Regions from separate parts of the Homo sapiens genome. Here region 2 is linked to region 1. The links come from fine-mapping of genetic effects on gene expression. A gene starts in region 1. The other region holds a variant in brackets. All regions are shown on one strand. Distances are from middle to middle.

Region 1 (4,514 bases):
ATGGCGAAACCCCATCTCTACTAAAAATACAAAAATTAGCCAGGTGTGGTGGCAGGCACCTGTAATCCCAGCTGCTTGGGAGGCTGAAGCAGGAGAATCGCTTGAACCTGGGTAGCAGAGGTTGCAGTGAGCCAAGATGGTACCACTGCACTCTAGTCTGGGTGACAGAGCAAGACTCATCTCAAAAAAAAAAAAAAAAAAAAAGCGACAGTGTTTTGCTCCACTTTTGCTGTGTACAGTCTCTGTGGCATCATCCACAAGCACACGCCTCTCCCTCCCATGTCTGCGGGTTGGCTGGGGGCAGCTGGCATGGGCTGGACTCATGGGTCCCAGGCTCCTGGTTGGGTTTGGACCTGCTCCATAGATGACTCTTTCTAGCCTGGAACCAGCACTCCCTGGGCCATGCTCTTCTCACCACCAAACCAGCCTGTGCCATAGGACGAGCCATGAATGTGAATGAAGGAAGACCACAGGTACTCTCCCTCTCCCGACCCCAGGCCACCTGGCAGATGCTGGCTTCCCAGAACCATTTTTGTTTTGTTTTGTTTTGTTTTGAGACAGAGTTTCGCTCTTGTTGCCCAGGCTGGAGTGCAATGGTGCAGTCTCAGCTCACTGCAACCTCCACCTTTTGGGTTCAAGCGATTCTCATGCTTCAGCCTTCCAAGTAGCTGGGACTACAGGTGCCCACCACCACACCCGGCTAATTTTTGTATTTTTAGTAGAGACAGGGGTTTCACCATGTTGGCCAGGCTGGTCTCAAACTCCTGACCTCAGGTGATCCACCCACCTTGACCTCTCAAAGTGCTGGGATTACAGGCATGAGGCACTGCACCGGCCAGAACCATTTTTTGAGATCCCTCATCCTGGTCCTGGACACATCTCGAGGGAGGGCAGGGCAGGGCAGAGGCCGTCATCACCATTTCCCATTTCTCATTGGTTACAATGAGACTAAAGCGTACTGCTTCCACCACCAGGGTGCTTTTAGAAAGGCCTTTCTGAGAAGACACATGAACAGGGGGTCTGAGCAGAGGAACCCAGCCCAGCTGTTTCTGGCATGCCCTGTGAGGCCAGATCTTCCAGGCAAGGGTGGGGTAAGGGGACAAAATAGCAGCAGGCCTGTCATCAGAGCACCTGGGCCTGGCTGTCAGACTCACCTCCTCCACTTACCCACCGAGGGACTCCGGGGAAGTCACTCAGCCTCTGGGATCCTTAGTTTCATCATCTGCAAAACAGAAAGCCACGAAACCACTCCTTCTCGATGTTATTGAGAAATAATGTTGTAAGAAGTCATATTGGTTGAACAAGCACCTACTGTGTGCTAGGCAGTTTCTGTGCCTATGCCTGAGACAGGCATTGCTCTGCAGATAAGCACACTGGGCCAGGTCTGTCAGGTAATTCATACAAGATCTCTCTGTCAGTGAGTGGGCCTGGCTGCAAACCCCGGGTCTGTGGGTTTCTGGAACCTCTGCCCACTGCCCAGGGTAGGGTATGTCTTCCTCCTCCCCTTCAGTTACCTCAGGGGAGGTATTGTTATTTTACAGGGCTCAGGGAGCAGGCCTGGGGGCACCACGGAGAGATGGGAGGTGTCTTTCCTGGGTGCACATAACAAAATGCCACCCGTCATGTCTACTGAGGGCGTCACATCTGAAAGCCTGCTTTCAACTCTCAGTTGTTTAATCATGGTGGTGGCTGCTCAGGAGACAATGTGTGTGTTTCTCAGGCCTCTTTCAGCTCCAGGAGAGAAGAAACCCAACCCCAACCAGCTTCAACACCAGAGAAACTGGTTCCTGCAGGAGAAACTGGGGTGGCTGGTGGCCCTACTGCACTCAGGAGGGCTCAGGGCTGGTGCTGGTCCCCTGGAGATGCTGTGCTGTCTCAAACTCACTTCTCCTTCTTCCTCCTCTCTTTGAACTCACCCGGGCCTCATTTCTCCCCATTGGGATGCAGCCACCAACAGCCCCAGTTAGAAATTCCAGTCAAATGAGACCTCTGTCTCCTTGGGCCTCTGAATCAGTCCCAGGGAAGGCGGCTGATTGGCCTTGTTTGAGTCACGCACTCTCCCTCTGATGGACATCTGTTATTGCCACGGGAAACTGGCTCTGGGCATGGCTGGGTGCAGTGCCTGTCACCAGAAGAGGAGGCATAGGAAGCAGTGGGCCACAGGGGCATTTGTGTCAGGATGGCAGTTTCTTTTATGGTTGGGCCTCTGCTTCTCTGATATGTGTACAAATCAGCGTCTCTGCACCTGGGAGAAGAGAGGCGGCATTGTCTGAGTTTCACCCCATCACACGCACACACAGGGCCAGAGACCTACCATGCTCAGTGCCCCGACTGTACACATAGAGAAACTGACGCCGAGAGAGGGGTCGCACATCACTCGGTTAGTGGTGCAGGAGACAGATATCAGGTCTCCTGACATCCAGGCATAAGCCATGCAGTTATTTGTCACTGGTTCTGAAGCCTTTCTGAGCAGGCCAGTGAGGCAGCTTTTTAGTAGCACCAATTCCTCCCATCCCAGAACATAAAGACTCTTTGGAATGTGACTCCATGCAAAAGCGAAGGCTCTGTCCCCACCCCTCCATCTGGGCTGACCTCATGGCTTGCTTGACTAGTAGATGTAGCCTGTGTTCTGCTGCCCAGGACTCGGGGCCTTGCAGCTTCTGCCTTCACCCTGTTGGGGCCCAGCCCAGCTGCAAGGTCAGAAGCCCAGGCTGGGGCAGAGAGAGGCCTTGCTGTATCGGCTGGCCCATCAGTCAAATGCAGCCACGCGAGCGAGCCCAACAAGGTCAGCAGAGCTGCTGGGTCAGCCCACAGAAGCACGAGAGTCAATTATGGCTTTAAACTACTAAATCTTGACATGGTTTGTTATGTAGCAATAGAGACAAGAAGCAGCCAGGCTTAAAGAGTGAAAAAGCTAAATATATACACAATTATTTGTCTAATGTCATTTCAGAATCTTAGAATCTTACCGTTGGGCCACCCCCTCTCATAACCCCAAGGTGCTGGCCACCAGAGGCCCTGTAATGTCTCCACTGATCTGGGGCAGCATGTGGCCAGTGATAGCTCTGTCATGTGCTGCTATGTCCCCAGTACTGCACCAGGGCTGGACAAACAGTAATTGCTCCAAAGTTGCCAGGGATTGGAGCTCACTCCCTCCAGGATGGTGTCTTCCATTATGAATGGCTCTGTCTTGGAGAAGATCCTCCTCCGTCTAGAGCAGAGACCTCTGATTCCCCCAGGGGTCCTGGCTGTCTTCCTGGGGTCCCCTCTTATATAGGATAGCCTTAGGCACATCACGATGGTCCCTAGCATTACAAAGCAGCACAACCTCACTTAATAACAAGTATTTTTATGTACATGGTGTCCCCGGACACAGATATAACCCTAAGGGAAGTGCTTCCACCTGGCCCTAAAACAAGCATGGGCTCTGGATCACACAGTTTGGGGTTGCAACTCGAAAGCAACTTCTGTTTGGCCTTGGAAGAGACACTTCATGTCTCTGAGCCTCAGTTTTCTCACCTGAAAAATAGGAGGAGTGAAATTTATTGCCTGGGTTGCTGTGGGGCTTAAAGGAGAGATGATGTATGTAAAATGCTCAGCACGTAATCGGTCCTTGATAAAGGTTAGTTCCTTTTCTGCCAGGTACGTAAACAGTTCCAGATGGAGAGCTCATCTGTACTTAGCATTCATGTCTATATAAATAATGTGCAGGTGGGAGAGGAATTGTCAGGTGGCCGGGGAAGGGGGAGGGCGTTCCCAGCAGGGGAACAGTGTAAGCAAAGACAAGAAGAAGTTTGCTTTCAGAGAAGGGTAAGTGGGTGGTTCGGTGCTGCTGGCATGAAGAGCAACAGGAGGGAGAATAACGGGAGAGGAAGCCAGGCCCATGCCACGGAGGGCCTTCAGTGCTGGGCTAGGGAGCTTGGGCTTTGCCAAGAGAGACATGGAGGAGGTCTGAAGAGGGAAGGGGTAAGGTCAGGTTTGGGATTCAAGTCTGGGGCAGGTCTGGGGTTGGATGGGGAGGTGAGGGGAGATGGAGCTCCTGGAAGCCTATGAGGGGAAAGTGGGGTAGCAGCAGGAATGACTTGGGCTAGTGGAGGGGAGGGACAGCCTGGCCACTAATGCAGCAGCTGAGCCACCTGCATGGACACATCTGTTGTGGGAAGCAGGGCCCTTAGTCCTCTGGTCTAGCACCTCTGCTCTGCATCTTCAGTGCCAAGCCCTGTTGGGAAGAGCACTTTTTCTGTCCTTTTCAATCCAGGAACAGACTGTGAGAGGGAGAAGACCTGGGCTAGATCTGTAGCCAGAAGGATGCGGGGTAGACCAGAGGGGAACTGACTTACCTGTCTGTTTGGTGGGGATTCAGAGAAGTCCCTCTCAAGGTCCGTTTGCTCATTTTATTAACCATCCCAGACCTCAAGTTGAGCTTTCCAGTTTTCTAAGCCCTGCCACAGTTATGGGCAGGCTCCTTTGAGACTTGCCACTGGCTTGAGAGGGAGGCTGGGCAGAGGTGATTA
Region 2 (4,000 bases), 17 kb before region 1:
CTCGTCCGTGCTTTGGGAAACGTTAGCCTGGTGGGTCCCTATGAACCCTGGTGATGTTAGAGGACCCAAGAGCCTCCCAGATCCCAGCTCTGGGCACCTGGGTTCCAAGACTCTAGGACCAGGCCCCTCCTCGATCTGCCGTTCTCCTAGGCCTTCTCTGAGGGCAGCCTGCATCGGCAGCACTTAAGGACCCCACAACCTTAAAGGACTCCACATGGACTCACTCTCAGTGCCCCCACCCACAGCAGAGGCCGTCTGGAACCCAGAGTCAGCTGGCCTTCAGCAACCCAGCAGAGACCCAGGAGCGACAGGGAACCAAGAGGGGGCCATTCTGCAGCCAGAAGTGCTGAGTGCCCCGCCTGCTGTGGACCCAGCGGTCCTCACCCAGGGTCAGGGCTGAGACCTGGCAAGGTAGAGATCCCAGAACCCCTGGGCTGAGTTCTGAGGGAGGCAGCCCATTGCCAAGGGCACTGCACAGGCTTGGGTAGACTCCAGGCTATATCACTCCCCTTGCGACCTTGAGCAAGTCACTTAACCTCTCCTCTCCCATCAACCTCCCAGTATTAACTGAGGGCTTAAATCAGACAATGTGTGTCACACGTTCTGCCCAGGGCTGACACTCTGTGGTCAGTGGTCAGTGATGGAAGCTACTACAGTTACCACCTTGGTGGTCTTTTCCTACCTGTGGGCAGCCTCCCTGGACCTGCCTAGTCAAGGCCAAGGGCTGCTGCTTGACATTCAGGGCCCCTCAAAGCCTGGCCTCCCAGCTCTCGCCAGCCTCCCATCCTCATCCTGACATCCAGCTACACCAGGTTCTTGACTTCTCTGAAAGGAACTGTCTTGCCACCATGCCTTTGCCCAAGCTTTTCCTGATGCCAGGAATGCCTTTCCCCCTGCTTCTGGACATGAATGAACTTGATCTGCTTGTGGAAGAAGTATTTACTAAGCACCAACTCTTCCCAGACTCATTTGGTAATGAATATGACATAGATCCTTTCCTCAAGGATGCCCTAGTCTAATGGCTGGATAAAGCTACCAATCATTATAAATCAATGACCCAGCTGTTCTCACTCCTGGCCTAGCCCCAGGAAGAGCACAAGCCTTGGACACCAGCTGTGTGACCTAGGTAAGTTATCCAACCTCTCTGGGCTTCATGTTCCTCATCTGTTACAAAGAAATGATAAGGCCAGGCGCGGTGGCTTACACCTGTAATATCCCAGCACTTTGGGAGGCCAAGGCGGGCAGATCATCTGAGGTCAGGAGTTTGACACCAGCCTGGTTAACGTGGTGAAACCCTGTATCTACTCAAAAAATACAAAAATTAGCCAGGCATGGTGGCGCATGCCTGTAATCCCAGCTGCTCAGGAGGCTGAGGCAGAATTGCTTGAACCCAGGAGGCAGAGGTTTCAGTGAGCCGAGATTGCACCACTGCACTCCAGCCTGGGCGATAGAACGAGACTCTGTCTCAAAAAAATAAAATAAAATAAATTAAAATAAAATAAAATAGAAATAATTACTACTTCAAAAGGCTATGATGAGGCTGGGGGTTGTTGCTCATGTCTATGATCTCAGCTACTCTGAGGCCAAAGTAGGAGGATCCTTTGAGGCCAGGAGTTTAAGACCACCCTGGGCAACATAGTGAGAGCCGTCTCTACCAAAAAGTAAAAAAATTAGCCGGGTGTTGTGGTGCATGCCTATAGTCTGAACTACTTGAGAGGATCACTTGAGCCCGGGGGTTTGAGGTTACAGTGAACTATGATTACACTGCTGCACTCCAGTCTGGGTGACACAGTGAAACCTTGTCTACTTAAAAAAAAAAAAGGCTATGGTGAGACTTAAATAACAGAACGTAGGCAAAGTGTTTAAAACATTCATAGATGTGTAATCCCAGCAATTTGGGAGGCTGAGGCGGGCAAATCATGAGGTCAGAAGATCAAGACCATTCTGGCCAATATGGTGAAACCCCGTCTCTACTAAAATACAAAAAATTAGCTGGGCGTGGTGGTGCGCGCCTGTAGTCCCAGTTACTTGAGAGGCTGAGGCAGGACCTGGGAGGCAGAGATTGCAGTGAGCCAAGATTGTGACACTGCACTCCAGCCTGGCGATAGAGTGAGGCTCCATCTCAAAAAACAAAACAAACAAACAAAAAATTCATAGATGAAGCTAAGTCCCCCGCTTGTTGCCCAGCAAGTATTGGACCAGACGGAGTGAGAAGGCCTGGGTTCTCACTCAAGCTCTGTCCTCTATGTGCTGTGCAAACTTGGGCAAACTATTGCCCCTCTCTGGGCATCAACTACAACGTGAGGACCTCTCAGGGTCCTGCCAAGGCTGAATGATATGTGCTACGGTAAGTACTCAATAGGTTCTTTCATTTCCTCCTGCCTCTCACGCTCTGCCATGTCCCACCCACCCTATAACCCCCAAAGATAGAAACCTTCCCAGAGACCCAGAAAGCAGGGCCT[G/A]GTGTCTGTGGTTAGGGCGGCGTGACTCGCCCTGTGTAAGATCAACTGTGGTGTCCAGGGCAGTCTCCCCTCACTGCCACCCCCTAAACTATGAGTCGGGAAATGTCTGGTGTGTCTAGATGCCAGCATCCGGCACAGGGTGGGCCACACAGCATCCCTCAGACGCGGTTTCTTGACCTAAATGGAACTGTTCTGGCCTGCCCTGGCCTCACCTTCTTGGGGAACCTGTTGCTGAACCCTGCCTTACTTCCTGGGTGGGCTCTGACCACACAGAGGCAAACGTCATCACCTCAGTGTGTTTCCCGGTTGTCAACAGCTCTTCCACCTCCACCCAGCAAACCCTGTCCCTGCGTGCAGTGCCGTCATGGGGTAAACAGCTCCATATGGGCATGGCCCTTCCCGGTTGACAGAGCCTCCCACTTCACACCTCAGAGGGCAGCCCGGAGGGGATGATCAGCCCTGCTTTAGGGGCTGTGCTTGTCCAGCACCCGCCAGCAGGCCCCGTCATCCTTCTTGGTGAGGCTGTCAGTCCCTGCAGGCACTGGGGTCACTTCTCTCTGGGTCCCCACTCTGCTTTGCTCTGAGCGGTCCCCACCCAGCCCGTCCTGAGCCTGCTCTGCCGCTTGCCCTCGCCCAACTTTCTTCCCGCTCCTTCTGAGCCAGCTTCCTCCATTTTCAAATGAGAAGGACAACGTGGGCGACAGCACATCAGCGCATGGCCTAGCAGCAGGCTCATGGCACATGGTGGGCGTTCAGGCAGTGAAGGCAGCCTCCTGTGTCTTTCCCTGGGCTCCGGCTCAAGCCACGGGGTGGGACGATGGGGGCTGAGCCTCTTCCTGGGGAGCTCAGTGCAGACAGCTTGTGAGTGCTGGGTGCTGCAGCTCTAAAGGAAGGGAGCCTGGTGCTCCTGGTGCCTGGGTCTCCTAGGCTGGGACCCTGGGGTGAGCCCTGGAGCTACCCTGGGTCTCAGTCTTTCCATCCTCCCCAGAAGGCTCAGGGAGAAGGTGCTGTCAGAGCACCTTCCAGACGAGGCTCAGACTCCCCAGGCGGCCCAAGGGTAAATGAGAAACAGATCCAGAGGCCCTGGTGGGCCCAGAGCAGTGTGAAGGCCCAGGGGCCCGCCTTGGAGGCTGACGCTGGGACAGGAGCAGGCTGCCATGCGTACTAGGGAGGCCACCCGCCCACAGGGGCTGCAGGCAGAGATCACAGGCGGGAGGCAGCAGATTCCACTCCCGAGGAGGGCCATGCGGTCATCTGGTAATTAGTGGTAATGACCGTTTCCAAATAAATCCCCCTTGGGGAGGTAATCAAGGATTAGGATGGGAGGTGGGGGAGTTCTCCTTGTGGACATCTTGCTCGCTTCACTCCAACAGACCCCTAATTGGAAACATTTCGGTTTATCTGGGGGTGGGGGCCTGGGGGAGAGGGTGGAAGAAAGGACAGGAGGGAATGCAGAGTTCACAGGCGAGGCCCGAGCTCAGGGCCCTACCGGGGTGGCAAGGCCTCCTCTCATTCAGGAGTTGGGGGCCTTGCTGGGA

Which allele goes with the higher level. Alleles are on the strand shown, and positions count from the first base shown. SD is a standard deviation of normalised expression in the study named.
As copies of G replace A in region 2, the expression in breast of the gene that starts at base 2,020 in region 1 goes down (small effect, 0.29 SD a copy in GTEx).

The links. PIP is the estimated chance that this variant, and not a neighbour inherited with it, causes the effect. A credible set is the group of variants that fine-mapping cannot tell apart.
Region 2: its variant is the best candidate, but not a certain one, in a credible set for the expression of LINC02761 in breast (GTEx, PIP 0.65).

Annotation. Positions count from the first base shown.
Region 1 is chr11:76,214,071-76,218,584 of GRCh38, forward strand. It overlaps LINC02761 (long intergenic non-protein coding RNA 2761), which reads right to left and starts at 2,020. Exons shown (of 3, transcript XR_007062785.1): 1 at 1,917-2,020; 2 at 1,155-1,222.
Region 2 is chr11:76,197,666-76,201,665 of GRCh38, forward strand. The region is part of intron 1 of WNT11 (Wnt family member 11); the gene reads right to left. Among named protein-coding and RNA genes, the nearest start is that of WNT11, 6.8 kb to the right of the region's middle. The variant G/A (reference allele first, on the strand shown) is at 2,463.